2 separate regions of the Homo sapiens genome follow, and region 1 is linked to region 2. The links come from fine-mapping of genetic effects on gene expression. A gene starts in region 2. The other region holds a variant in brackets. All regions are shown on one strand. Distances are between the middles of the regions.

Region 1 (15,464 bases), 25 kb before region 2:
GTCAGCATTTGTTAAACATACATGATGCTAAACTTTGTATAGCATGACTTCATTTATAATTTATTTATTTCATTAATATTTTATTTCAGATTTATTAAAATTTTTGGGACTGATACTTTTATTATCTTTATATTGAAGATAGAGAACTAAAGTTTAGAGAGTATAAGCTAACTGCCAAATCACATTGTTAGCAGCTGAGAAGATATTAAATTATTCAACAACTAGGGTGCAAACACCAACCCAGCCTAGTAGACTGGATATGAGCATCCCAGTACATGCCCAGTAAATACCAGCCCTGGTGAAGTCAGAAATTGAATGCAGGCTACCTGACTCTAGAACTCATGCATTAAAATTATACTACTCCTAAAGTGAAGTTAGAGATATTGATTGTGAAAGAAGTATGAAAGGCCTTATTTATATGCAATCAGGAGCCACAGAAATTATTAGAGAAATGACAGAGGATGTAAACATAATTATGTTATAGAGTGATAAAAATGGCAGCAATGTGGAAGACAGCCTGGAATGGGGAGAGGCAAACATCAGAGAGACTTTAGATTGTTACTGCAAGAGTCAAGACGAAGCCCCAAACTGTGACTCTTATTGTGGACGTGAAAGAAGTTGATAAATTTTAAGGATATTTAAGAGGAAAATTGATAGCACTTTGTGAGAAAATCGGTTCTGTGATAATAAAAGGTAAAGAAAATTCACATTTCTAACATAATTTGATGCATGGCAATGTCCTTATCTGAAATTCTAATTAGGGAACAGGAAGAGAGAAAAAATTCCTAGCTAAGAGTTTAAATACTTAATGATTTTTTACTCTCCACTCCCAAACATTCTGTTCCTTCTCTCTTCTCTTTCCCCTCCATTTTTTTCCTTCCAACATGCTCATTAATTAAAACAAATTTTGAGATTAAGTTATTTCACTTCAATCTTCACTTCTAATAACACTGAAGAATTTGAGGTTCATTCCTAGAAATATGCAATGCTCTTCCATGCTTCTGTGTCTTCACAGATGTCATTCCTCCTACCTGAGGTGTCTTCTCCACACCTTGGTTGCATAGTAAACACCTACACAATCACTTTTCAAGGCCCAAACAATGATTTGTCTGTGACCCCCTCCCGCAGGCAACGTTAACCACTCCCTGTTAGTCTTCTATAGGAATCTGTTCACAACTCCATTAGCATTTCTCATATTTAAATTGCAATTATTTGGTTACGTGTTTGCCTCCTCAACAAAGGTAGGTCAGGGACTGTTGTTTTGTATTTTCTTGTCCCCAGTGTCTGGCAGAGTACCTGGCAAATAGTATAAGCTCAATAAATAAATGTTCACTGAAAAAGTAACTGTTAAATGGATCTATGGCATGAAGATTGACTAATGTATAAGCTACATAGAGGAAGGTGATTAGGGTAACAAAGAGTGTGACCACTCCTTAGCATGTAGACACCATGGGAATGGCACCCCTAGCTGAAGCCACATGCATCCCTTCCAAGACTAGTCTGAAACTTTAGCTGGAATGAACCAAGAACAAGAGAGGGTTTTATGATTTCTTTATGAGGCTTTCAAGGAGGAAACATATTCCAGATGTGATGTTAAAGAGGAACTAGAGCCCTTTAATGACTTCTAGTTTCCTCATTTGATTTCAACTTCTCACATACTATTCTTTAATCCTTTATGTAACCTCTCTCAGTCCTATTCTGCACTCCCTGATCACGGGTTTTTTAATAAGAGAAGAATTATGAGGGCTTCTCCAGGTAGATTCACAAATAAAAGTACCAGATGCCCGGTTACATTTAAATTTCAGCTAAAAATGTAAGAAAAAATTAATTTCAGCTAAACAACAAATAATTTTTTAGTATAAGAATTCCTGTGAAATATTTGGTATATATTTATCCTAAAAAATTCCTCATTGTTATCTGAAATTCACATTTAATTGGGCATCATGTATTTTATCCTACAGCCCTATCTCCAGTCCTATTTCTGCCGAGGATAAAAAAGACACCGTGTAAACTGCATGTTTGCTATATCAAACTGAGCAAAAATATAGTGAATGAAATAGGCCAGAACTTTATTCAGAGGCTAATGAAAAAAAGCAGAGTTGGCACAGATGAATCTGTGGGCAAACAGGTTGGTAACATGGTGTTCCTCGCTTGGCCCAGGCATTTTGCCAGTAGCAACCATGAGCATATGCCAGTGCAACTTAACAGAATAGCTGAAAGCAGGAACATTGGAATCACACGTTCGTGTGTCCAATTCCCTGCTCTGGCTCGTATATAATTTGTAACCTTGGGAAAACTCCTCTAAGCTTAAATTTCCTTGTATAAAATGAGGAAATGGTAGCCTCTCAACAATTGTATTGATACATTGTATCTAATTCAGCACCTGACCAGAGGAGGCAGCCTATTATTATTATTATTAGTGGTGGTGGTGGTGGTGGTGGTGGTGGTGGTGGTGGTGGTGGTGGTGGTCCTAAAATGTCTCTCTCCCTCCTCTAAGACAACTCAATGTAGAATAGAATAGAATAGAATAGAATAGAATAGAATAGAATAGAATAGAATAGAATAGAATAGAATAGACAAGTTTATTATTTATTTTTCACTTAGTATTTGCAAGGCACTGTGCTAGTTTTACAAATTTTCTTATCTAATCTTTATAACAACACCAAGAGGTATCATTATTCCTATTTTATGGACACTGGATCCAAAGCACAGAGAAATTAAAAATATCTTAAGGTTACAGTGTCACACAGCTCGTAAGGGGCAAATCTGAAATTCAAACTCAGTTCTGTGTGATCCCAAAACCTGTGCTTTTAACACTAATGCATACATTGAAATCTCTCCATGAGATTGCCAACCCAAATTGTAATTCTTTTCTACCTTGAGAAAAAAAACCACTCAGATGATTTTTAATTAAGTCTGGAAAAGTCTGTAGGAATTAAAACATTTCTTATTTCCTTCATTCCTATACCTTCTTCCCAAGCTAGAATAGTGTTGTAGAAGAAGGTTCTCTTTTTCTTCCCAGCTTGGATAAAACCCTCTTTCATAATCTCAGTTTCTCATCTAACCTAAAGCAAATTCACTTGTTTATGGCAATGGAAGATAAATCACAGCTTTTTAACTGTTATTTATACGGCCAACATTAAGGGCTCTTTACAGTTATCAGGTGTTTCATTTTTATCTCCTATATTCTTACAATGGTGCTGATATATAGGCAGAAATTTATATTATGTCCCTTTACAGATGTAGAAACTGAGACCCACAGGGTACCTGTCATTTGCCAGAGTCACACAGATAATAACCAAAAGAACCTGGTTCCTCTTCTCAGAATTGTTTATTAGCTCATTGATTCAATGCATATTTGTTGGGTATCTTTTACAAACAAAGCACTATCCTAGACAGCAAAGCCATCTCCCTGAACAAGACTGATCAGAATGCTTCCCTTTGAGATGTTAACATTCCTTGGAAAGAGAGACATTAAATCATCAAAAATTAAGTGCTGAGAAGAAAGAATACAGAGTGTAGAAAACTTAATCACATAGGGATCTGAATTGGATTAGAGAGTCATAGAAGTTTTCACCAAAGACAAGACATTTTAGCTGAGACCTGAAGCTATGAGGAACAAACCAAGAGGAGAGAAAGAATAAGAACAAGAAGCAGGGAAAACGGAGGGTATTGAATCAGGACCATGCAATGAGCTAGTGTTACTGACAGGAATCGAGGCCAGCTATCCTGACACTCAGGACAGTGCTAGCTTTTTGACACCAGACCTCCAAAAGCAGCTGATTTAGGATTTGTCTGCTTGCCCTGTCCAGCTGCTATTCCTAAGAAGCCAGCAAATTTCTGTCTTAAGTTGCTGTATCTACAGCCTGCTCTTATCTATAGAGTGCCCTTGTGATGATTAGAAAAATATGTACCCTTTCCCAGGCAAACACAGCAATGTGTCAGGATCCATGGCCTAACTGATAGAGGACACTTGAATGTCATTCCCCTACTAGCCTCTTGGACAATCACAGTGCTCAGTCATCAGTAGTGACCCTGATGACATAAATCTACCTCAATGAAGGCCTTTTAATGTCTAGATTTTATTAGAGACTCTGGCCTTGTCTGTCCTATACAAACAGTGGTGATCTAGAGTCTAGAGTCTAGATTCAACCCTTTGTGCAAGAGAGACAAGACCAGTGTTTTCCTGAGAAGATACGTTGGGAAGGCCTTGGAAGGCCACACCACACAAGGTGCAACAGAGCTGCCTGATTATGTTCCAGAAGTGGTTTGGTGCCTTGTGAAGAGTATAACTAGTAAGTAAGAAACATTGCCCTAGCCTTGGCTCTGAGATGCTGGATGAACCTCCTTTTGTCCATACTTTAGTTAACTTTCCCATTTATAAAATGGTATTTTGACACATGCAAAGTATAAGTATTGGTAAATCAATAAGTTTAGGTATTCCCAAGTCCACATTCCAATTAAATGAATTTATAGCATTCCTCAGGATAACCAATATCATCTAGACTTGAACCAAACTTTATTCTCTTGCGTGTATTGCAAAGGGAGATTATTTTACATCTGAAATACATAGCAGCATCTCAAATCCAACATTCTGTTTCACCAAGTGCAAATATATTTAATCCAGTTAATTATTTCTTTTAAAAAAAAAAAGATGGTAAGGTAGACTTTATTCAAGGGGAACCATGGTGATGGGTATGGGTATAGAGACCAAGGCAATGGAGTCTGGCAGTCGGGGAGAAAGACTGGTCTTAATCAATTCCCAGATTATTTTTTCTTCTGCTGCTGTTTTTTTGTTTTGTTTTGTTTTGTTTTGTTTTGTGTGTGTGTGTGTATGTATGTGTTTTGGTATTTGCCATGTGCCTCAGTTAATATGTATTCAACTCTAAAAAAGATAGTTTTGCCTTCGAGAAGCCTACAGCCTATTGGTAAAGACATTTAAAAAGGACCTAGCAGGTACATCAGAGGATCATCTATCTCTATTTGGAAAAACCGGAACAAACTTTCAGAGGAGGTGAAGTCAAAGGTGAGACCAAGACCAGGCAATAGAGTAGGCTCCATGAGGATTCAGCAGTAATAAAACATTCTTCTCTTGAGACCTACAGGCTAGGAATCAACCTAAGTGTCCATCAACAGGTGAATAGAAAAAGAAACCATGATATGTATACACTGGAATACTATTTACTATAGAGCCTTAAAAAAGAAGGAAATTCTATCATTTGCAACACAGTTGAACCTGGAGGACATGATGTTACATGAAATAAACCAGGCACTGAAAGACAAAGAAAGACAAATACATACCACATGATCTCATTTACATGCAGACTCTAAACAAGATGAACTCACAGAGGCAAAGAGTAGAATGATAGTTACCAGAGACCGGGAGTTGGGTAGTGGGAGGGATTGGGGAGATGTTGGTCAAAAGATATAAAATTTGAGCTAAATAGGAGGAATGAGTTTGAGACATCTATTTTACATCATGGTGGCTATAGTTAATAACATTGTATTGTATACTTGAAAATTGCTAAGAGAGCAGATTTTAAGTGTTCTCGCCACACAAAAAAAGATAAGTATGAGTAGTCTGGGTATTAAATAGCCAGATATAGCCTTTGCACAATATATGCATATTTCAAAACATCATATTGTGCACCACGAATATGTACAATATTTTGCCAATAAACAAATAAGTGGATCCACAAGCTGAAAGAGAAGAGAGCTGTTAAAACACTTAGTTCTCCTATGAGAACACATGGGCACATTCAGGGGAGCAACACACACTGGGGTCTGTCAGGGTTTCAAGGGGAAAGAGAGCATCAGGAAGAATAGCTAATGGATGCTGGGCTTAATACCTAGGTGCCAGCCAGGCACGGTAGCTCACGCCTGTAATCCCAACACTTGGGAAGGCTGAGGCGGGCAGATCACGAGGTCAGGAGATTGAGATGATCCTGGCCAACATAGTGAAACCCTGTCTCTACTAAAAATACAAAACTTAGCTGGGCATGGTGGCACATGCCTGTAGTCCCAGCTACTAGGGAGGCTGAGGCAGGAGAATCACTTGAACCAGGGAGTCGGAGGTTGCAGTGAACTGAGATCGCGCCACTGCACTCCAGCCTGGCAACAGAGCGAGACTCAGTCTCAAAAAAAAAAAAAAAAAAAAAGAAAGAAAGAAACCTAGGTGACAGGTTGATCTGTGCAGCAAATCATCATCATGGCACATGTTTCCCTATGTAACAAACCTGCACATCCTGCTGGCTACATGTGTAGCCTGGAACTTCAAATAAAAGTTGATGGAAAAAAAAGAGAAAAATAAAAGTAAAATAAATAAGACAGTTTATGTTGTCGTTTTCTGTTTGTTTTGAGACAGAGTCTCACTCTGTCACCCAGGCTGGAGTGCAGTGGTGTGATCTCCGCTCACTGCAATCTCCGCCTCCCAGGGTTCAAGCGATTCTCCTGCCTCAGCCTCCCAAGTAGTTGGGATTACAGGTATCTGCCACTACGACCAGCTAATTTTTTGTATTTTTAGTAGAGACGGGGTTTCACCATGTTGGCCAGGATGGTCTTGAACTCCTGACTTCGTGATTCGCCCACCTCAGCCTCCCAAAGTGCTTGGATTATAGGTGTGAGCCACCGCGCCCAGCCAACACTTAGTTCTTATACAATGGGGTCAAGTGTGCTATAGGGCAGATGATGAAGTAACAAACTGCCTGGAGAAGGGTGGAGTGGTTATCATGAAGGTATCACAAAGAAGGACCATTTGAACTGAGGAATACGTAGGAGTGATCCGAAGGGAGACAAGGAGGAGGGTATCTGAGGAAGAAGGAAGAGCAAGAGCAGACGCATGGGGTGTGAAAGGGCATGCCCATGTGGGAACAAGGGATTGTCCCAGAGCACGAGGGAAGGCATAGAGTGTAAAGGGAGGGTGTAGGCTTGCCTTGCCAATCTGATTTGTTGCCTGCTGCTTGGCACTGACGAGCAATTCTACCTGATATCCCTTTAATTATCAATGCTGGCCTTGAAACTAGCCTCAAGAGATTCACTCCAGAACCCTTTATAGATACAAATTTTAAAAATCAAGAGGGTTTTTCTTTCCCTATATGTAAAATGTTTGGTTTGAATGATAGGGTATGTCTCATTAGTACAGATCCAAAAGCAAGCTGTGCAGACATCTTGTGCAACAATCTAAATTCCAAAGCAGATGATGTCACCTATCTATGCCCTATAAATGGAGCATTGTTTCACATGTATCTGAACAATTTATCTGCACGAATACCCCGTGCTACCAGAATGGCTGTCTCAGTACTTCGCCTGACAGTTGTCCTGGGACTGCTTGTCTTATTCCTGACCTGCTATGCAGGTAAGTGCTTCTGATCACAGCCCATGAATTGTTCAGTAGTTAGCAGTGACTAGAGAAAGCTGATGGCACTGATTCAGAACATAAAAGAAAGAAGGGGTCTTTGGGCACTCCAGAAAGAGCACTGGCCTGGGAGACAAGAGGTGTATCTTCTAACACAAAGAAAGTAGAATTTTAATAAAAACCTAGCCTCTATTTTCAGTGGATGTATGAAGTTTGAAATTTTTTTATGTGCTCTTATGATATAATGACACTATTCTAGTATAAATTCCATGGGAGCTGACTGGCATTTATTTTTTGATAATTATTCCTAATAATGTTCATTGGTGAAGAATATGTACTCTGGAATAAAACTCCTGTACCTGGCTCTACCACTAACCAGAAATGTGACTTTAGGAATGCTATTCAATCTCTCTAGGCCTCACATATAAATGGGGACATTTAACTTTCTCGTAAAGTTATCATGAAAATTAAATAAAAGGAATGAAACAAATTGGAAGGGTACCTGGTTGATAGTAAGCATGCAATAAATACTACCTGCTATTGTTGTCATGTATAATCTCATTTGGTTCTCATAGTAATCCAATGATGTAAACATGTACAGTTTTATCATTTTCCTTTTTGCAGGTTAATAAACAGGTTGCAGAGGGCAAGTTACTTGAGCATACATACAGGTGAAAGTGGCATCTGGGAGTGAAACCTAGGTTCCTAGATTCTTTCTACTATTATCGAGCAACTATTTCTTTCCCACCTTTTCCAAGCACATAGAAGCTCATGCTGTATGCTGCCTTCTCATTAATTAATTTACTGTTTGTCTGCAAAAGTCTGTGAGCTCCATTCAGAATGATAGACCAGAAAACAGAGGGAGTGCAAACATTTAGTGACAGAATCCTTTGAATGTAACTTGGCTGAAGAACACACAGACAGACATTACAACAGAATTACTCTAGACATGGCCACGGATATTATTCAGTCCATTCTACTCCTAAAGAAATCACTACAGTGAAGTGAAAGGAGAGATTTGATACCAAGACCAGGCACCACCCTGTCTCTTATAAACTCTGAAACTGGTTAAATCGTTCACTGCTTTGAACCTCAGTTTCTTTATCTGTAAAACGGGATAACTATCAACTTCACCAGGTCAAATGAATATGCTTTTTAATTACTTTGTAAACTATTAAAACTCTACAAATATCAGCAATACTGTTTATTAAGAACATTATATTCACATTCACTAAGAAACTCAACAAAGTAGTTACTGTAAATAAAGGCTATCCCATATAATACTTGAAAAAAGAAAATATTAAACTATTGACTTTGAAGATTGTTTCTAGGATATCAATCGTTTAATATTTTAATAGCATTTTTAAAATTTATATTATCTTCTAAAGCACTAGAGGAGAAAGTGAATTATAAATCATTTTGCTGCTATTATTATTAATAGTAACAATAAAACAGATAACATTTATTTATTCATTCTTTCATTTATTATTTATTTATATAAGGTAAGTTTATCTTGGGATTGGTACTACGATAAGTGGTATATATATGATATATGTATGTATATATAATATAGATATATGTATGTGTGTGTATATATATATAGATATATAATATATAAAATATCTTTCAATCCTGACAACATATGAGGAAACTGAGAGATGCAAAGTTAAGCACTGTGTGCAAGTTTACATGGCTAATTTTTTGTTAAAGGCAGGAATCAGACAGATCTATAAAACTCCAGAGCATGCAATCCATCACACTTTAATACCTCTCAATATATATGGGGTTCACAAGCTAAGGCCAAGATTTTGATTTCCGCCCACTCCAATCCCAGGCTTCTTGCATCTTGAAAAGCCAGGTTTTAGTGTCATATTAAAATAACAAGTCAATAGAATTTATTATGCAAGTAGCCAGATAGAAACACAGGAGAAAAAATCTCATCTTTCATGCAAGAAATTACTGCTTTGCATTTGGCAAATGTCTTTACAGAACAATTGTTTGGAGGTTGTATTATACAATGTGAATAATGTGCTTTGTGGAGTTAAAAAAAATTAGGTTCAAACCCTGGGTCAGCCACTTTCTAGATGAGTGATTTCAGGTGAGTCATTTAATTTTCCTGAGCATCTGTCTTCTCTGCTGTAACTGTGATACCACTGCTGAGCTAAATGACGATTAAGGCATGTGCTGAAAGCACTGATGGAGTACCTGCACGATAGGCACCTTACACATGAGTTCCGCTTCCGCCTCCTTCCCACAATAAAAACAAACCAATCCTTCTGAGTACCTGGGTTGCCCAGCACTTTATGTGAAGGTCATATCTACAGTTGTCTTTTTTTTTTTTTACCTTGACTCTTAGCATAACTATGCACATAATAGTAGGCTCAGGCCAGGCAGGATGGCTCACACCTGTGACCCCAGCACTTCAGGAGGCCGACGTGGGCAGATCACTCAAGCCCAGGAGTTCGAGACCAGCCTGGGCAATATGGCGAAACCCCGTCTCTACACAAAATACAAGAATTAGCCAGCTGTGGTGGCATATGCCTGTCGTCCCTGCTACTCAGGAGGCTGAGGTGGGAGGATGTCTTGAGCCCAGGACGTTGAGCCTGCAGTGAGCTGTAATCACTTCACTGCCCTTCAGCCTGGACGAGAGAGTGAAGCCCTGTTTCAAAAATAAAACATTAAAAAAGTAGGCCCAAAAATACTTTTTGAATGAAGGAACCAATCATTGGATATATGAATAGGTGATGATTAGTATATTGATTTTGGTTATATGTCCCAAACTGGTGCTTCTATCAAATCTTTAGTTGTGTCATAGTAAACAATAAATGCTCATAGAATTGCCTGCCAATCTTTTTTACTAATAGTTTCCATTTTAGGATATAATATAGATGTAAAGTTTCTGACATAATTTGGCAGCCTCCACACAAAAGGTAGTTACATCTCCTTTATCCAAAGTCAGGGGTACATTGTCTAGAAGTTGGGACTTCTTGAGTTAAAACTTGTGCTGAGGTTGCTAGATAAACTACGAGAAACACAGTTAGATTTGGATTTCTGATATGCAATGAATAATCTTTCAGCATCAGGGTGTCCTAATTATTGCATGGATCTTTTTTATAGTACCAGAAAAGCATTTGTTGTTTATCTGAAATTTAAATTTAACTAGGCATCCTGTATTTTTATGTACCCAGTCTGGTAACATTACTTGTCAGGGTACAATACAATTAAAAAATAAAGGTCCCACTTTATCCTGTGACCAGGGCTCAGAGGGGCGACCACATGTAGCTACTGTCACTCTTCCATCTCTTCTCATCTCCTGGGAATAAAGACAATCAAGCAAAGTCAAAAAGCCCCCAAGGGACCTTGAATATAATCAACCTCACTCTGGATCCTTGGCCCTCATTCCAATGGGCCCTTAAGAATCTAGTGTTAAGAGGCCTGCAGTTATCATCTTAGCATTTTTCTTACTGTCTATGAGGTCTTCTGTAAGCCTCTTAATCCTTTCACTTTTCAGTTCAGTGAGCTAAAAAATGCATACTCTGTAAGATTGCTCAGGGGATAAAATTACAC[A/T]ACATTTGTAAAATCACTATTTATGAAACTACTAGGTGATATGCAAGGGATAGAATTGCTTTGTCATCATTATTGTTATACTATTTTGAATCTTCTAAAAGAAGTGCAAATTGCATAACTTTTCCATCAAAGACTGTGCAGCTCATCATAGAGTACTTTAGAATCCAAATTTTAATGCCAAACTGACATGGGTTTGAATTGTATTTCTGCCACTTACTAACTATGTGACTTTCAACCAGTTTCTAAACATCTCTCAAATTATATTACTTTACCTTTAAATTGGGATAATTGTTCCTACCTTGTAGAATTGCTATGAGGATAAAATAAGACAATCCATGTAGATCGTCATAGGCATGTATTCAACAAATGTTACCCATTGATATTTCATTTTTATTTATTTATTTTATTTCTCAGAGACAGGGTCTCACTTTGTCACCCAGGCTTGGAGTGCAGTGGAACGATCATGGCTCACTACAGCCCCTATCTTCTGGGCTCAAGAGATCCTCCTGCCTCAGCCTCCCAAGTAGCTGGGATTACAGGTGTGCACCATCACACCTGGCTACTTTTTACTTTTTGTAGAGATGGAAGTCTCACTATGTTACCCAGGCTGGTCTCAAACTTCTGGCCTCAAGCAATTCTCCCATCTCACCCTCCCAAAGTGCTGGGATTACAGGCATGAGCCACCTCACCCAGTTGATAATTTATCTTTAATATTATTATTACCATGGGCATGGAGATCATATGGAAAAACAGACATTCTGTATGTCAGTCCTGGCACTGGCACTTACTGGCTGCTTAACTCTGAGATAAGTACTTAGCTTCTGGGAACTTTGGTTTTCTCACTCACCAGGCGGTGCCAGTGTCTACCTAAGTATCAATATCAGTCGGTCTATTTGTTTGTTTTTACAAATAAATGAGACAATGCATGTGAAGATTTTATCCAGACAGGCATTAAATGTTCGATGAATATAACCATATAAGGCTATGAAATTTGTGAGTGGGTCAGAAAGAATCCCAAGCGTTCCCCACACAGAAAGAATGATTCCTTCTTTGTTGCTGAGAATCACCTCTGAGATTCTGTTGTTTTTCAGACGACAAACCAGACAAGCCAGACGACAAGCCAGACGACTCGGGCAAAGACCCAAAGCCAGACTTCCCCAAATTCCTAAGCCTCCTGGGCACAGAGATCATTGAGAATGCAGTCGAGTTCATCCTCCGCTCCATGTCCAGGAGCACGTAAGCACTGAGAAAAACGTTGCTTTTTGTCCAATTCTCTGTTGATAATGACCACACAATGACCTCATGGCATTAAAATACATGAGAAACAAAATTTGTGGCATAAGTAAATGTGTTATTTTTCATTGAAAAATGTTGCCCTACTTAAAATATATTTTGCATCTGAATCAACTGCCCTGAGCTTTTTGGGGGAAAGGACATTCCCATCAAGTGGTTCCATACAGGATTTTTTTTTTTTTTTCTTTTTAATCTCAGGAGCAAATAGGGAGGAGGAAGAACACTAGACTAAGGAACAAAAAGCCAAGTTCTGATCCTAACTCAGTTGCTATTTTACTAGGTGGTCTTGAACAAGGCCCTCCCACTCTGAAGGCCTCTATTTGCTCATATTTTAACTGTGAAGTTAAAATAATAGATGGCCCGCCCCTTGTAAGCACTGTGATTACGTGATGAAGGTAAGAGGTAGTGATATGTTCGTTAGTGATGGGTGTGAGGAGTCCTGCCTATATTTTCTAGCTTGAGTAGCTCAAGAAGGTTAGCAGAGACAGTAGATAACCTCTCTTTAAAGACAATCTAGAGAACCTCTCAACATGAGTGTTGGTTTTCATCATGAGAGACTGCCTTCGGGCAGATCACCAATCCCAGAGTCTTCCCAATGTTCTCAGCCTGCTTCCAAGCCTGTGTCTAATTCCCAATACATATTATTTTTGCCTACATAGTTTTGATTTGACACTACTACACTGTATGCTTTATTCTCCCCATATTAATCTCCCAAATTTCAGTTCTCCAAGATGAAATTCACTCTTCCAAATTTCCAGGTGCTTTCAATTTCCACTGCTCTAAGCCTCTGCTCTCTAATTTTCTCCCATATAGATCCTTAAGCAGAGTTTGACTAGGTGTGGTATACCCACCTGATACAGAATCCCTTGGGGGAATTTATTTTTAAAAATGCAGATTTCTGCATCCCATTTTGCATCTTTCTGGGGACAAGGCCATGGATATGGTTTTCAACAAGCTTTTCAGGTAATTCTGATATACAGAAATTTTCAAAAGCCATGCCTTGATCAGATGTTCTGGGTTGCATGGATGGGCCTTAAAGATCCACAAAACCTTTACATTTTTATTAATATTTTGTGTCAGTGTGATTTATTTATTTATTTATTTTTGCATTTTCCCGGGGAAAGTGTTCATGACTTCTATTAGATTTTCAAAGGGGTCTTTAACCAATAGCAGATTAAGAACCACTTCCATGTAGGAGTAATCAGGGGTTTTGTAATCTCTGATCTGCTTAAAGGGATAGATTGTCATCTGATTGGGCAGTGTTCTACAGGCAATCCTTCTCCACAAATTGTTAAAACTCACAGGTGCTTTTTTTTAATTGTTACATTTCCTACTGTGGTTGCTTTTGCAACTGTTATTTTTCCAAGACTGTTAATGTAAACAAGAAGGAAAGTCATAGGCCGACAATAGGAGCACCACCCATTACATACAAACTAAAGATTAGACTCCAGTTGAATTAGTATTGTTACATCCACACAGCAAAACAAGGAGTTAGAACACTAAGAGTTCTTTTCATTCCTTCCCTAGGGAATTTTCCAAGTATAAAATAGGACATTTTTCTCTGTGTTAACCATAAGAGTCGACTCTCTGATATGCTAAAGAATTGCTGTCCGCTCTAGGCTCAGAAATGGCCCTTCATCTACTGGTTTCCCTTTCCCTCATTACATTCTGAGTAAATGACCTTCTTTCTGTTGCTAGAAATTATTACCATCTCAGGCTCTCTTCCCTTGCTCTCCCTCCTTACTAAAATACTCTCCTTTTCTAATGACTAGTTCTTGAGCTTACAGCTAATCTAAAAGTCACTTCCTCAGAAACTATTCTATGACCATTCTTGTTAATACTGTCTTCTTCCATTCCCACTGCCTGTTATTCTCTATCACTTTACCTTGTTACAGTGTCATAATATTTGTTACCATCCGAAATGACTTATTTATTTTTAATCAAGTAGCTAAGTGAAAGTAGAGACCAAATCACCTGACTGGTTGCAAGAGCACAGTACATGGCATATAGTGTCAGGCACTTGAATTAATTAATTAAGGAAAGATATCTTGCAGATCAGACCTAAAGCCCATCTACCTCAATTTGACTGAGAAATCCTGAAGGATCTTTGCTCAAAGACACAGCAATATCTGCTCAAGAGATAAATCTGCGGGTGGTAGAGCCAGGATCTAAAACATACCCATAACTCCCTGCTCAAGGGAAGACCATAAGCAAAATAGGGGGTGGAGGATAGGAGGAGACGTCAGAAAGTATTGCTAAGCACTTAACATGTACAAAGCAGGGACACGGATTGTGAAGGAATAGTCTAGGCTCTTAATCCCTTCTCCTCAAATAATTTGCAGTCCTTATGGTAAAATTACTTAAGCCAATGCACAATGCCATAAATAAAAATGAGTAGCAAGATAAATGTCAGCCAAAGATCACAGGCAGTTTCCAGCGAAAGGAGTTCTCAATGGGTCCAGTGTGCTTAGGGAAGTGTTTATGGCAAAAGCAAGATGTAATTTGGGCCTTGAATGACTAAACAATATTTGATTTGGAAGAGAGAATGAGAGGAATAACAATGATTCATAAAGGTGGGAATTTTACTTTATTTACTCCAATATGTCTGATGCCTAAGTGGTGTGTCAGATGCATAGTAAATGCTAGAGACATGCATTTGAAACAATGAATAGACTGGATTGTTCTCTCCACTTGCTTTTGGATCAGCTTGGAGCTACCTAGACTGCATTTTGCTCATCATTTTTCTGAAAAATATACATATTCTTAACTCCTCTCACCCTTTGAGAGCCCTTAATTCTAGGGAATATTTTCCCCTCTGGGTTCCATGATGTATTTTCCTGGTTCTCTCTCTACCACTAGCCATTCTTTCTCATTCTTTTTATTTGACTTTTCTTCATGCACCTGCCCTCCAAATGTCATTGTTCCTCAGAATTCCAAACGTGCTTGGTTCTTCACATTGCAGTTTACACATTGGGAACACTGCCTATAATCTAATGAGTTTCAAATTCACATTTCTGTTGCAATTTTTTCCTGAGCTCCAGATGGAATAACTGATTGCTTGCTACAAAATTCCATCGTTTTTCTACCACTATTTCAAATTCCACTGGTCTAAACCCAAGCCCATCATCTCACTCAAAACCTTCCTCCATATCTCATTAAGTCACATCATCATCCACCCAGAATCCAGAAATCTAAGGATCTTCTCAAATCCTTCCTGCTCATCATCACCTTCATCGAATTGCTGAATATT
Region 2 (15,464 bases):
TCATTGTTGCATTTTAAAAATATCAGTTGGCTGTTGTGCAGGCTAGACAGAGGGGTCCAGAGTAAAGCAAGAAGCCAGCCAAAAGCTCTTGAGCAAGGGAGGGTCAATGCAGACAGAACCATGTGGAAGGATTCAAGAGAATATTAAGACATTAGGTTGACAGGACATGGTGATTAGTTCTACATGACGTGTCAGGGAGAGGGAAGTATCAGGAATGACTCGTAGGAGTCTGACTAATGCAAGTGGATATGGTTGCATATGCAGTGTTGCCACTCAGGTATATGGAGAACATTGGATACAAAATTTCCCAAGGCTTTTCTGGGCTCTTAGGATAAATACAGGGCCATGACCATGACACCTAATGCATGGTTTGACCTTGGCTTGTGTCCCTGTGCTCCTGCTGCCACCTGTGCACTGAAACACAGGTGATGTTTCAGTTCTTTGAAGAAGCCAAGTTCTCCTTATCCTCAGGATATTCATGCACTTAGTACCTTCCACACAGAATATTATTTGGTTAAGATGGGTTCTTCCAACCTCAAGTCCCAACTTGGCATGTCCATAGAAATGACCTAAAATAAACAGGCAATCTCTTGTCACTGTGACCTTTCTTAGGATCCTATTCTTTTCCTTTATTGTTATTATCATAACTTATAATTATCCTTTTACCCATGTTTATTTGTGTGGTTTCTATCTCTCCCTTTACACTGTGAAATCTATGGAGATATGGGTCATGACAATTTATTACTGTATGCTTCCTGTCCAGCAAAGATCCTGCAACTAATATTCAATAATTATTTGCTGAATCGAAAATATATGGAGGAAACAATGAATGACCAATAGCTATCACTGTTATTATGGTCATTGTCAGTATCAGAAAACAAGTTCTCATTTGATAATGAGAGAGTTAAGGACAGAACAAAGAATGCACCATTTAACAATGCTTGAAATGAAGTCAGAGGTAGTTACTAGAAAGGGGGAGCATCAGGTAGTTGCCATTTAGTTGTGAATCCCCAGTGAAAAATTTAATGCAATAGAAGGTGCTGATATTTCTCATTATCTACCTTGCATATATACACAAATGTTTTCCTTGATTTTGCTAATAATGAGCGCCCTCTGCTGTCTTTAATCTGCCTCAATAGCCTGCGAGCTCTTCATCTGGTTGCTTTCTAAAATAAAAAATAATGTAGCAAATAAATTGTACTTACCTGTCTGGTTGTACTGCCTATCTTAGACATGAAACTAAGAAATCATATAATTCATACCTTGCATGGCTTGACCCTCCAGCACATAATAAAAAGGGATTTACAGCTAGCTTAGGGAGAACAATCATACCCTAGGCATTGTCTTGGGTCCCTAATCCCATCTTTGGAAATGGCACTTCTCCGACCTCAGTCACCTGAGATACCAACTGTTCTTCCCCATTGAAATGTGTGACTAGTTATCAAAATTTTAGACACCATGTAATTCTGGACCTTGCATTTCCACTTTCAAGGTTTTTCTGAAGACATAAAGACAAAAATGTATGCAAAATATGCATGCTCACTATAGCACTTTTTATAATAACAAAAAATATAATTAGATATTAGAAACAATATAATATACATTATATAAATTAAATTAATATTCACATAGATAACAATTTAAATAAGGCATATGTCATTCATATGTGCAATGTATCATTCATGTATGTTTGTAAATATTTAGAAAATGTCTTGAAAAAAGCACATCAATGTGAACAGTGGTTTCCTCTAATTTGTGGAATTTATGGATGAAGAGAATGAAAGTTACATATATGCATATATGTAACTACAGTTATACATAATTATAGTTGTATATAATTATATATAACATGTTAATTATATTCCATATGATTATATGATAATTATATGTATATATTTCTATATTCTGATGATCTTTAAAATAATTTTTAAACTTTTTAAGATAACTATAGATTCACATGAAGTTTTAAGAAATCATACAGAGCAATCCAGCATATTTTCTACCAAGTTTCCTCCAATGGTAGTATCTTGCAAAACTATGCTGCTACATCAAAACCAGTATGCTGACATTGATACAGGTAAAACACAGAATATTTCTGTCCTCATAAGGATCTCTCATACAGCTCTTATATAACACACTCACTTCCTTCCTGCCCCCATCGTCTCCTTAACCCCTGGAAATTACAAATTTGTTCTTTATTTCTATAATTTTGTCATTTTGAGAATGTTACATAAATAAAAGTATACAAAATTTAACCTTTGGGGTTTGACATTTTTTCACTCAGCATAATTCTCTAAGGATGCATCCAGGTTACTGTGTATATAAATAGTTTGTTCTCCTTTTTTGTTGAATAGTATTTCTTTACAAAGATGTCCAAAATTTATCCATTCATCCACTGAAGAACAACTGTGTTGTTTCCAGTTTTTGGCTACTAAAATAAAATTGTTATGACCATTTGTGTACAGGTTTTTGCATAAATATAAGTTTTTGTTTCTCTGGGATAAATGCCCAAGAGTACAATTGCTGGGTTTTATGGTAGTTGCATGTTTAGTTTTTTAACAAAATGTCAAACTATTTTACCAGAGTAGCTGTACTGTTTTACTTTCACACCAGCAATGTGTGAGTGATCCAGCTTGTCTACATCCTCACCAGCATTTGGTGTTGTCACTTTTATGATAATGTTTATCATCAGTTTCTGCCTGCCTTCCCAAACATAATTTGTCCCCAGATTCCTTCTTAATCCCTCTGTTTGATACACCCCTGGAAAAAAAACCTTCCAACCCAGTAAACTGTCAGATTACTGCTATTACTCAGAGTACAATGGCAGAGAACTTTATCCCCAATCTTTTCCATTTAATACCTTAGTGAAGACATAGAGAGGCATCCTTCTCAAATATGCAAAACACTGGGAGAGAGAGAGCAATGAAAGGCTTAATAATATGACTAGTGGAACAAAACAAAGGGGCCAACCCAATCAGATACAACTTAACAGAAACAATCCCATTTATTCAACAGAACCAACACCGACTATCTTCAGGCTCTGTGCGATGTGCTGAGGATACAGACATGTACATTAGAGTCACTAACCATTTAACTTGACAGTCTAGAAAAGAGACTTTGAAATAAGTATGAAAACAAATACGTTTAAACTTATATTATTAATGTGTCTATTGATTTAACATAGTGTCTGACTCTTTTTTTTTCAATCAGCATTAAAAAACTATGGATGAATTTGAAGTTGGGGAATAATTCCTGTATTTTAGGAAGTCTCCTTCTGTGTATGGATGATGGATTAGAAGGGGACCTTTGGGAATACAAAAGTCACTTGAGAGATTAACACAGTAGTTTGAAGGGAAATGACAAGATCTGCAGCTGGGAACAGTGGCTCATGCCTCTAATCCCAGCACTCTGGGAAGCTGAGGCAGGAGGATCGCTTGTGCCCAGGAGTTCAAGACTAGCCTGGGCAACATGGTATCTAAAAAAATACAAAAAACATTAGCCAGGCATGATGGTATGTGCCTATAGTCCTAGCTACTCAGGAGGCTGAGGTGGGAGGATCACCTGAACCCAGGAGGTCCAGGCTGCAGTGAGCTGTGATGGCACTATAGCACTTCAAAAAAAGAAAAGAAAGAAAGAAAGAAGAGAGAGAGAGAGAGAAAGAAAGAAAAAAGAAAGAAGAAAGAAAGAAAGTAAGTTTTAGGAACAGTACCAGTGGTGATCATGAAAAATGTGTGCAATAGTTGTGAAAAGGGTTGATAAGGCTTGCTTACCAATCAGAAAGGAGGCTGATGACAGAGAGTACTTAGGATTATTCCCAAGTTTCTGTCTCAGGCAACCACTAAAATGTCTGTGCTGTAAACTGAATAGCAAATTAAAACATAGGAGTGGGTTTTGAAAGAGAGACAATGAGTTCAGGTAAAAATGTTTGAGTTGAACCTAAAAAAGAGCATCCCTTGGAGGTGTCTTATAGGTAACTAAATCTCTTCTTTAAAAAAAAAAAAAAGGTATAGATTGTAGCCATAGATTTTAGAGTTCCTAACATAAAGATTATATTGGCGTCCATGGTAGTACATAAGATTCTCCAATAAAGGTTATACACAGAGTAAAAATAGAAGGGGAATCAAGTTTAGTATCTTTGGAGGTATCAATGTCCAAGGGAAGTCAAAAATAATAAGGGCCATTTAAAGAAACTGAAAAATAGTGGTCAAATAGCAGAAAACTAAGGTAGGCGGAAAGATGGCATGTAATTCAATAGAAAAGAAAATTGCAAGTATGAGAGTCATCTAAGGTGACAATTACTTTGAAGTCATCAAGTAATGTGGTCAATTACATTACATTAATCATATTTGGCACTGCTCTTTCCTATAGGATAATTATACATCCCCTTCCTAAAGAAGTCAAACATGGTCAAATGACTTGCTCTGGCCAATTAAACATGATTGGAAGTCATATACTTCACTTTTAAGAAGAAGCTTTAAGAGTTAGCTCATTGTTCACCAAGTTCTCTTTCCCTGTAAACATAAGCAAAATGCACAAGAGAGACTATTCCATCAGCTCCTGTATAGAATTCATAAAACATTGATCATAGCTACAGCCAACCAAAGATGGCCACATACTGTGAGGAACAAGTGACACACTGTGCACGTAAGCCACTGAGATTTGGGATTATTTATTACTGCAGCTGGGCAACCTAATCTATCATTATAGGCATAGGTAAAATAAGGAAATAAAGTAGGAAATTTCACAGAGTGAAAGCTATTTTAGTTGCCAAAAAATGGAAGTCAAGCAATGGAAGGAAATTAAGATAATATCCCTAGAGATAACATTTAACATCATCTTAGTCAGAAACCAATTAAGAAACAGAAACTACTCAAAGTACTTACAACAGAAGGAATGTAATGCAAAGAATTGATTGAATAGACATTAGAAGAGCTAAAAGTCAAGTAGGTGATGGTAAGGCACCCAGAAACTGACAACAGGAGGAAACCACTAACTTCAGCTGGAGAGAAAAAGAAAGGAGGTGGTGTAACCAGAGCCCAGAGGCTGGACTCACCCAGCAAAAGCTGGGACCAAGGCAGGCCTATCTAGCAGGACCTGGAGCTCAGACGTGGTACAGTCATTTCCAGAGACTTCTCCCTAATACAGAGCCAGAAAGGGTCATACAATAGTTTTCCTCTTTTCCTACTTCCTATCTACTGCCTGCGCCTCCCAGGGGCAGAACCTAGCCCAAATGTCAGCTGATTTGGGAACCTGAGAAATGCAAGCTGCAGCAATCAGTATCATGTTTCCTGTCCTGCCTCAACACACAGCAGAGCAGAGCAGAGCAGAACAGGGGAAGTGGAGGAAATGGACCTGACAGCAAACAGTCCAAAGACTGACACAGGCCAGGTCTGAAGGTCGATGGTGGCAGACATTCTAGGTAGGAAGAAACTTGATTTTTCATTAAGGTGTAAGAGTGTTAGAGGGAAAAGGATTTAGTTATCTGTTCAGTGTGGCTGGAGTAGAGCGCATGTGAAGAAAGGAATGTAGATAAGAAGACTAGACGTGTAACCAAAAGCCAGATCATGAACAGCCTTGCATGCCATGCTCAGAAGCTTGAAATCTGCTCTACAGGCCGTCATGATATTACCAGAATAATTCCTTGGAAAGATAATTCTGTCATCACTGTAGATGACAGAGTAAAGGAAAGAAAAGATAGTTCATCACCCATTTGCCTAAGGATGATGTAGTAAAGGCCTAACTTGGTGGAAGGATTGGTGAAAGCTATTGAGTGGCCATAGCTTAACTACAAACTTAAGAACTAGCATTCTAGTGAAACAGAAGCCAAACCAATGAAGTTAGTAAGATGCTAGTCTTATCAGACAATATTTTGAAAATTATTTTTTCATTTTTTAAATGTAAAAATTTATTTAGGATGGGGGATAGGAAAGTGAAGGGTCTGAAAACACCGTGAGATAAAACATTTGGGAAAAATAGAGATGTTTAAATTAGAGATAAGGAAAGGAGAAGGAATGATTATGTCTTACTTAAGATTCCAGGTTTTCTTTATAAAAACAGGCTCTCTCGAGTTTATGAACCAAGGGAAAACTAATCTGGATACGTCCTTCTGAATAGAGTCCCCAGAAATAAAAATAGGACGACTGAAAATGTATTCATTGCTTTATTTGTCCTTTTCACGGGTCACTACATTTTAGGGCATTTGATCTATAATTGGTAGAACAGGTTTCAGGCAGGGAGGATAGGAGCATCATCTTCCATCCCCATCCACCTCCGCTCTTTATCTTGATGTCACACCAAGTGTGATAGCGCCTCCTGAAATGTAGAAGGACAACAAAATTTAGAGCAGCTTACATGTAATTCGCATGTTTCAAAACATATTCACTTCCAGTGTCCTGTTTGGCCACTATTTTACTGATGGGGAAACAAAAACTCAGAGTGATTACGTCTCATCCAAAATCACGAAGGTGGTAAATGGTATTGTCACAACTATAACACATGTCACTATCATTCAAAAACCCTTCCCAGAAATGTAGAAATTGTATTTTTCCTGAGATTCCAGGATGTGCAAACTTCCTATGAATATAATCAGTAAAGTGGAAATGCACATTTACAAGGGACAAGAAGAGGAGCTAGACATTCAGGGTGAGTATGCCTCCCCTTTGGCAGATTAGCCTCCCAAGCTGTGGTTACCAGCAGTTTCTTCACAGCTTCAGAAGCCTCTGGTCCCAGCTCATTTACACACTTCCTTAGCCCCTCCACAAGGTGCTCAACAGAAATGCCCAGAGTTTTCAGAAGAAGCTTTAATGGATCCATAAAGGGAAGAATGTTGTCCAGAGGTAAAGGTGCCAACTTGTCAACAGGAAGGGGCACTTTGTTGATGAGGAAGGCAGTAGCTGCAGGAAAAAGAGAAACCAGGTGAGACAGGCACATCTGGGCCCAGACTATGACCTCATCTTCTTTCCCTGTGTCCATCAATAGCTCCATTCCAGATCCACTCATCTTACTTCCATTGAAAACTTCTACCTCTGGCCCTTTGCACCTGCTGTTCCATCTCCCTAGAACTTTTTTTCCTTAGCTAGCTACTTACCTTTCTTTCTCACATTATTTGGTCTCTCTTCAAATATTACCTCCTCGGAGAAGCCTGCAATGGCCATAGTCACTCTCCGTCATTTATTTTTTCTTACCATTACCTAAAAAAAGCAACTCTTCATTTGCTGTTTTTATTGTCTTTATTTTCTCATTAGAATGGAGGCTCCATGAGAACAAGGAATGTGTGTTTTTTCGCTAATGCACCCATGCCTACAACTGACCCTGGCAGCGTAAGCATTCAACAGATCATTGTGATTGTCTGAAGGCGATGGTATTTTGTATGTGACTGTCTCCACAGCTCACAGCTTTGAGGCTAAAGGAGAGATGCTATAGTGAATCTCCACATAAAGACAGGAATGGACCCAACCACAGCCCAAGAAACTGCTCCCAACCAATTCAACTCAACGCTACAAACATAATTGAGCACCAACTCTATCTAGTCTGTGCAGATACATAGACAAATAAGACAAGGATGCCCATTCAGAGACTTCACACAGTCCAGTTGGTGATAGAAGATCTGTGTATGCCACAGTGTAGCATGTGCTATGCTAACATTATGGACAAAGCTCCATGGAAACACAAGAAAGGGATGACTAATTCTAACATGAAAGAGTGCTGCAGGAATTTTCCAGAAGTGCTGTTAGAGCTATGTCTTGAGGCAAATGTCAGGATCATAAGGTAAAGAAGAGGAGAAGCATTTTAGAAACATGACCAATAAAGGCACGGAACCATTAGGATAAAAGTGCATACACAGGATGGTGAGCCTTCTGCCCAGAAGGCTGGAGTGCAGATTTCCAATAGGCTATGACCAAAGGATGGAAGATAAAGGGAGTGAGGCTGCAAAAGTTGAGTGAGGTCAGATTTTTTAAAGTGTTGGATGTCACACAAAGGAGTTTGGATTTTTTTTTCCTGAGGGCAGTGGGGCGCTATCAAGGCTTTTACATAGGAAAATTACGTTTTATATCTTTGGCTTTAGGAAGATAACTTTCCCGTAGAAGATGAATGGTGGGAAAAAGTAGAGATTGAGGAAAATATGTACGATGTATTTTTTACAAAAACATGTGCAGATATATAAATGCACACATGCATGTGAGCACACACGTAAGAACACACATCCTCCTACTGGCTAAGACCTGCCATAGTTTATTTTCCTTTGGAAACCTATTATTTCCCCATTCAAATTATTAAAATGGAGCCTGTATATATTTTTTTAAATTTTCAATCACCTATTGTCCCTCCAAAATTCTCACCCAGAGGGGGCGGTATTTATTTTCCCCACCTCCTTTCTGCTGCCACTTTGCCCATAGATACCTGTCCCTGGACATTAGAGAACAGTGAAATATCCAAAACTGGTGAAGTTACAAATTCCTTCAGAAATTCAATAAACATCAAAAGCCAAAGTTGCCATTGTAGGTGTGGGCGGCAATCAATTTTTCATTATTAATCTCCATACTTCTTATTTCAGACATTTTGGTAAATATCTTCTCTGTATGTGTTTACAGCTTCCTGGGAGAAGATCTTCAAAGCCTTCTGTTCTCTCAATGAGCAGTGGCTATCATGAAATCTCTTTTTCCCATGTGCCCACACTGTCTTCCTGATAGTTACAATGATTCCTTCCAAAAAAATAAATCAGTTCCCATTCTCCTCCAAGAAGCCAGCTTCTATACCCTTACCTGAAAATTAAACTAATCACCCACCAATACACTAAAAGAGTTCTATCTGGATATCTCACAGTACGTTTACAGTAGTCTAGAATTATAGTAACTTAGGCAGAAGCCCTATCTATCCTACCAGAGTAGCACCTTAAGAACAATATTTATGACTGCTTCATGTCTAAATCTTCCAATGCCTATCCAGTGCCCAACAAATTGTAGCCATTCAATAAATATCCATTGAGTGGATAAACAGATGAATGTAGCTATCTCAGGAGAACCAAGCTAGCAAATTGGATAACTGGAGATGATAGCAAGAATGACTCCATATAGTTCAAAAGCACAAAAGAAATTATAAAGTCAAATTTTAACTCAAAATTGAGGAAAATAAGAAAAACGAATGGTGACCAATATCCAGCAGTGAAATGTGCTTTGTTGACCCTCCGTGGAAGTTGGCTAACTTCCTATGTAGGATGTATTAGAATACTTATATTGGGCTAGAGCTTAGATGGTGGGGATCTGAAATACTTTCCAACATCACCATTTTCTGTGATTCCAAAACTTCTTCCAACCCTGCAAATATGTGCAATTATTATGTGTCAGTTAAAAGTAAAATAAAAAAAAATACAATTCCTACCACCATATTCCACTGTCAGTGAGGCAAGGCTTACTAGTTGTGCTCTTATTAACAGAAAAGTAAAGAAATGTCACATATTCCAGATGTATTCCAGTTACTTACCAGAGTAACTACAAAGGCTGATGGTCACCAGCAGGAAGATAGTTACCAGCTTCATGACAGTTATCTGGGATATTTTTCAGGAGTTTAAAAATCAGAAAAATCTAGCAAAATCCACCAAGCCAGTGGTTCCACTTGCCATACAAAGTGTGATGGCTGCTTTTGCACACACATATTTATATGCCCATTGAGGACCTGAATTCTAGTCCCTACCACTTGACTCACCCCACCAAAGAAAGGGATAAATGTTATGTTTTCTCACCAAACAATTTGGAGGGTTTTCCACTTCCCCGTGTGTTCCCATGAGAAACAAAGCTCTACAGTACAGCATTCTCAAGTACCTCTTGCATAAACCCTTGCACAGAAATAAAAGCAGAAGGCAAAGAGCCCAACGAATCCTTCTCCTGGAAGAACATTGAAAAGAAGTGAAGAATTTATATTTGGATTAGAAGGAGTGTTTTCCTCTGGTTTTCTACATTTTTCCCCAGTTTTCTAATCATTTAAAGTTTGGAGAATCACATTAGCTGATGAACTACCCAGTTGTGAAAGCAATCTGGAGGCCACTCTGGTATAATACAGAGTCAGCTTCATGACATTTAGTGCCACATTTCTCTGGAATTCACCTGCCCCCAGCCCACTCACACATCTACTATGGTAAGATTTTCACACCTCTGTTACCTTTTCCAGTGTCAGTTACTTTGAGTATGTTCAGAGCATGTCTTCTCTGAGCCTTTGGATAGAATAATAGGCTTAAGATCTAAAATCAGAGTGTCTTTTGAAAAACCTGGGATTCAATTTTCACTGTTTGTGTAATCTTGGATTTGACATTTTTAATCTAGGATATTGGTCCTCTCATCTAAAATGGGAACATAAATAACACAACCAACCATAAGGTGTGTAGCTTGGGGAAAAAATTGTTTTTGCAAGATTCTTTGGCAATCAAATCCGATAAAATCATTCAAAAATACGTAATTGTAAGGTACTGGCTACAGGAGTAGTAATTTGTTTCCAAGGCTGTCTTTCTGGATCCAGGGTTCAGCCACAGGACCTCAGGACAACTTCATTTGTGAGCAGAAGTCCTGGAGTTCTTTGGGGCATCGAGTGGGCCCGACATGCAAGGAAGAGGGTAAGAAAGAACCATGAAGGGGTGAAATAGAAAGCGGAGTCCATATGGGCACAGGACCAGCTCAGGGCTCCCCGGCCACGTGGTACTGCTGGCTCCAGCCATTCCCACCACCAAAGTGGAACCCAGAAAATTTTGAGAAAACACACCTTAAGATGTAAGGCCAGAGGTTGGGGCTTTATTTGTCCTCATCTGAGGGTGTGGTATTGTAATGAAGATCTAATAAAATTATGCAGACAGAGCATTCTGCTATGCCAAACCAAAATTAATATCTAATTTATGTCACATTTTACTAATTTTTATGTTACCATGTTGTAACTGTCATTTCTTTATCTTTCTGCTACTTTATAAACTACTTTATAAACTACATGAAAGACACCATGAATGCCTGCCATGCACCTCAATCCTGCCACTTCTCCTTCTTTCTCTACCAGTACTGCTTCCATTTCTCCCACATATTCCCACTGATGCCAGTGATATTAATATACCAAGCCCCTCAAAGAGCCAAGGTTGGTGGTAAGATTGATGCCGTTGCCGGAGGAACAGGGTCCAGCTGCTTGCTCTCGTGGTCCAATGATGAGATACAGGTGAACTGGGAAAGAAGCGAGTTTATTTTTGTAACCAGCCACAGGGAGAAGGTCGGAGTAATTTACCAGACCAACTAAAAGTTATGAGTTTTTCCTTTAGTATATATAAATGAATTTCAAGCTCTATGCCTATATGCAGGAGTATTTCTACTTAGCCTAAATCTAATCTTTAACTAGTGGTCTGTGGGCTGGAAAGTTTCTTAATTTTACATGGGTCCTGGTATGGTTTGTATGTGCATGAATGCTTTTATCACTCAATCAGGTTTGAGGATGAGAAAGCCCAGGTAGGGTCTTAACGGGTTTGTTTCTGCATTCCAGGTCTCCTACTCAGGCACCAGTTTCTCTAGTTCTTCAATGTTTAACTTACACATTCATCATTACAGCAAAGGGCTTATGGAGACTTGGTTGCTTGTGGAGATCCAGCCTGCCACAATGACGCCCTTTAGTTTTTTATTATGGTCTCTTTTGGAATACTAAACCAGTGCTGCCCTCAAATTTGTTTGCTTGCTTTTAAATCCTTTCTCTTCACTTTCATTCCTGGCTCTGTATTATAGAAAGTTGACTTTTTAAAATGTGGTTTCCAGGCTTCCTTGCTTCCAGGCTTCCTTGCCAACTGCATCTGATTAAGTTAAGCCAGGGGAAGGCACAGGTGAAAGAGTGGAGAGAGAGAGAAAAGGAGAAGGGATATGTCTCCCTCTCTCCAATTCAGGAGCTATCATGGGTAGTGGCTGCACCCTCTCCAAGGCTCATCTCCTTTTGGAAAGGTCCTTTATCTGTGGTTCCCCCTGTGCCACACAGGCCAACATTGTTCCAGCTTTTACTGCATGGCCCCAGCTCCTAGACCCCACCTTCTCATCACTGTCCTTCCTGACCTAGAAGGAGTAACAACTTTCTGCATTTTCTAATCTCAGAGTTGATTCATCTTCTGCTTGGTTGCTTTAACTGCATTTCTAGCACTTTGTAAATTACCCTACATGTTGAATTCTTTCTGTGTGGTCACTTGGTATGGTTTTAACTTTTTGGCTGGACTCTGACTGACACAGCATCCTAAAATATTGTAGCGCTTTCAATAAAAAATAGGTTTTCCAGTTTCTAAACTGACTTCTTATAAAAGCCAAGTTATAAATCCATGAGGGATAGGACCGAGGCCTCCTCAGGTGAAATATAGCATTATACATGCAGAAATGCTTCTCTCTTTTAACCTCTGAAATGATTGGTACTGTATCAGGCTTCTCTGCTGGTCCTAGAGGGCAAGTTCTTTCCAGGAGATTCCTGAGACCCCTGGGCAAATAGATTTCTGTTGGGTCTATCTAGTAGTCAGCCAGCCATGCAGTCTTGACTGGAATGTACATGAAAAACATCAACTCAAAAGCACCCACAAATATCCACATACATATACATATATGAATAGTAGTATGTATGTGTGTGTACATGCAAATCATATTATGCATACACAGATAACCATCAAACACTATTGTTTTCACTCATTTGTTCAACAAATGTTTATTGAGTATCCATTGTGTCTCAGGCACTGTGTCAGCAATTAGGACTAGTGCAGAAAACCAGACAAGCAAATTTCTTGCCTTCCTGGAGCTGACAATGTAGTGAGATACACAGGCAAGAAACATGTAAACAAACAGAAAACACTAGTGGTTAGTGCTGTTGAAGAAGCAAATAGAAAGCTGTGAAAGACAACAAGTGGATTGGGGGTATGCTCAGAATTGAAAACATACTTGGACTTGTTCACTTCTGGGCTTCCTATGTTTTGAGCCACTGTATTAATCATGTCTTTTAATTCTGTATTTTTAACGTTTTGACCCCTTGGGGCCTTGCTGACCTTGAAAGGACTGCCCTTCCCAGGACTAGCTAATTCCTAGAGATATCACCAGGAGCATGCCTTTCATATGCAAATTAACCAATCCAGAGCCCAAAGCCCCAACGACCTTTATTGGGCTTGTGCACTGTGGGCCATTATTCCCATGCCTTAATCACCCCATGACCAACTAGGGACAGCCCCAAGATCCCAGAGCCCACCAAAATTATTCACACTAGCCCATTTAAAACCTGCTTACCCCATCTCTCCTGTCTTCCTTCAGAAACCACAATAAAGACTCCTGCTCACATTTTCCTCCACTCCATCTGTCTCTTGAATAACCCTGGTGCTTCCCGTGTGCCTCCAGCCCCATGGTGTGTCATGGCCCCTTGTATTGGGATCTGAGCACACTAAAATCTCTTTTCAACAGCAGTCAACTCCTGATCTGTTCACAAGAAGAATAGAATCTACATTTTAAAACAGCCATGTAGCCTTTTCTTGTGCCTTTGTTATGGTATTGTTACTGTAACCACTCAATAGATTCACCTTGCCTGCTGCCTAGACAGAGCCAATGTATGAAGACAGGGGAATTGCAATAGAGACAGAGTTATTCACTTAGAGCTGGCTGTGGAGGAGACTGGAGTTTTATTATTACTGAAATCAGTCTCCTCCGGCATTCAAGGATCAGAGTTTTTAAGGATAACTTGGTGGGTGAGGGGCCAGTGAGTCAGGAGTGCTGATTGGTTAGGTTGGAGATGAAACCAGAGTTGAAGCTGCCCTGTTGCACTGAGTCAACTCCTGGGTGGGGCTACTGTCAGGCCTCTGAGCCCAAGCCAAGCCATCGTATCCCCTGTGACTTGCACGTATAAGCCCAGATGGCCTGAAGTAACTGAAGAATCACAAAAGAAGTGAATATGCCCTGCCCCACCTTAACTGATGACATTCCACCACAAAAGAAGTGTAAATGGCCAGTCCTTGCCTTAAGTGATGACATTACCTTGTGAAATTCCTTCTCTTGACTCATCCTGGCTCAAAAAGCACCCACTGAGCACCTTGCCACCCCCACTCCTACCCGCCAGAGAACAAACTCCCTTTAACTGTAATTTTCCTTTACCTACCCAAATCCTATAAAACGGCCCCACCCTTATCTCCCTTCGCTGACTCTCTTTTCGGACTCAGCCCGCCTGCACCCAGGTGAAATAAACAGCCATGTTGCTCACACAAAGCCTGTTTGGTGGTCTCTTCACACGGACGCGCATGAAATTTGGTGCCATGACTCGGATCGGGGGACCTCCCTTAGGAGATCAATCCCCTGTCCTCCTGCTCTTTGCTCCGTGAGAAAGATCCACCTACCATCTCAGGTCCTCAGACCAACCAGCCCAAGAAACATCTCACCAATTTCAAATCCGGTAAGCGGCCTCTTTTTACTCTCTTCTCCAACCTCCCTCACTATCCCTCAACCTCTTTCTCCTTTCAATCTTGGCGCCACACTTCAGTCTCTCCCTTATCTTAATTTCAATTCCTTTCATTTTCTGGTAGAGACAAAAGAGACATGTTTTATCCGTGAACCCAAAACTCCGGCACCGGTCACCGACTGGGAAGGCAGCCTTCCCTTGGTGTTTAATCATTGCAGGGACGCCTCTCTGATTTTACACTCACGTTTCAAGGGTGTCAGACCACGCAGGGACGCCTGCCTTGGTCCTTCACCCTTAGCGGCAAGTCCCGCTTTCCTGGGGCAGGGGCAAGTACCCCTCAACCCCTTCTCCTTCACCCTTAGCGGCAAGTCCCAGTTTCCTAGGGGGCAAGAACCCCCAATCGCTTATTTCCACACCCCAACCTCTTATCTCTGTGCCCCAATCCCTTATTTCCATGCCCCTACCCCTTCTCTGCTTTTCTGGAGGGCAAGAACCACCCCCCTGCAACCCCTCCTCCGTGTCTCTACTCTTTTCTCTGGGCTTGCCTCCTTCACTATAGGTAAGCTTCCACCTTCCATTCCTCCTCCTTCTCCCTTAGCCTGTGTTCTCAAAAATTTAAAACCTCTTCAACTCATACCTGACCTAAAACCTAAATGTCTTATTTTCTTCTGCAATGCCGCTTGACCCCAATACAAACTGTCGTCAAATGGGCAAATGGTCTGAGGTGCCTGACGTCCAGGCATTCTTTTACACATCAGTCCCTTCCTAGTCTCTGTGTCCAGTGCAACTTGACCCAAATCTTCCTTCTTTCCCTCCCGCCTGTCCCCTCAGTACCAACCCCAAGCGTCGCTAAGTCTTTCTAATCTTCCTTTTCTACAGACCCATCTGACCTCTCCCCTCCTCGACAGGCCGAGCTAGGTCCCAATTCTTCCTCAGCCTCCGCTCCTCCACCCTATAATCATTTTATCGCCTCCCCTCCTCACGCCTAGTCCGGCTTACAGTTTCCTTCTGTGACTAGCCCTCCCCCACCTGCCCAGCAATTTATCCTT

The links. PIP is the estimated chance that this variant, and not a neighbour inherited with it, causes the effect.
Region 1: its variant is fine-mapped to the expression of SCGB3A2 in whole blood (INTERVAL, PIP 0.99).

The regions. Positions count from the first base shown.
Region 1 is chr5:147,898,322-147,913,785 of GRCh38, reverse strand. It overlaps C5orf46 (chromosome 5 open reading frame 46), which reads left to right and starts at 7,248. Exons shown (of 4, transcript NM_206966.3): 1 at 7,248-7,354; 2 at 12,013-12,157. The coding sequence starts at 7,285. The variant A/T (reference allele first, on the strand shown) is at 10,922.
Region 2 is chr5:147,872,875-147,888,338 of GRCh38, reverse strand. It overlaps SCGB3A2 (secretoglobin family 3A member 2), which reads right to left and starts at 9,628. Exons shown (of 3, transcript NM_054023.5): 1 at 9,481-9,628; 2 at 6,691-6,893; 3 at 6,148-6,312. The coding sequence starts at 9,535. The coding sequence ends at 6,289. It also overlaps a transcript of C5orf46 not described here. RefSeq lists enhancers at 12,796-13,461, 13,462-14,129, 14,130-14,795.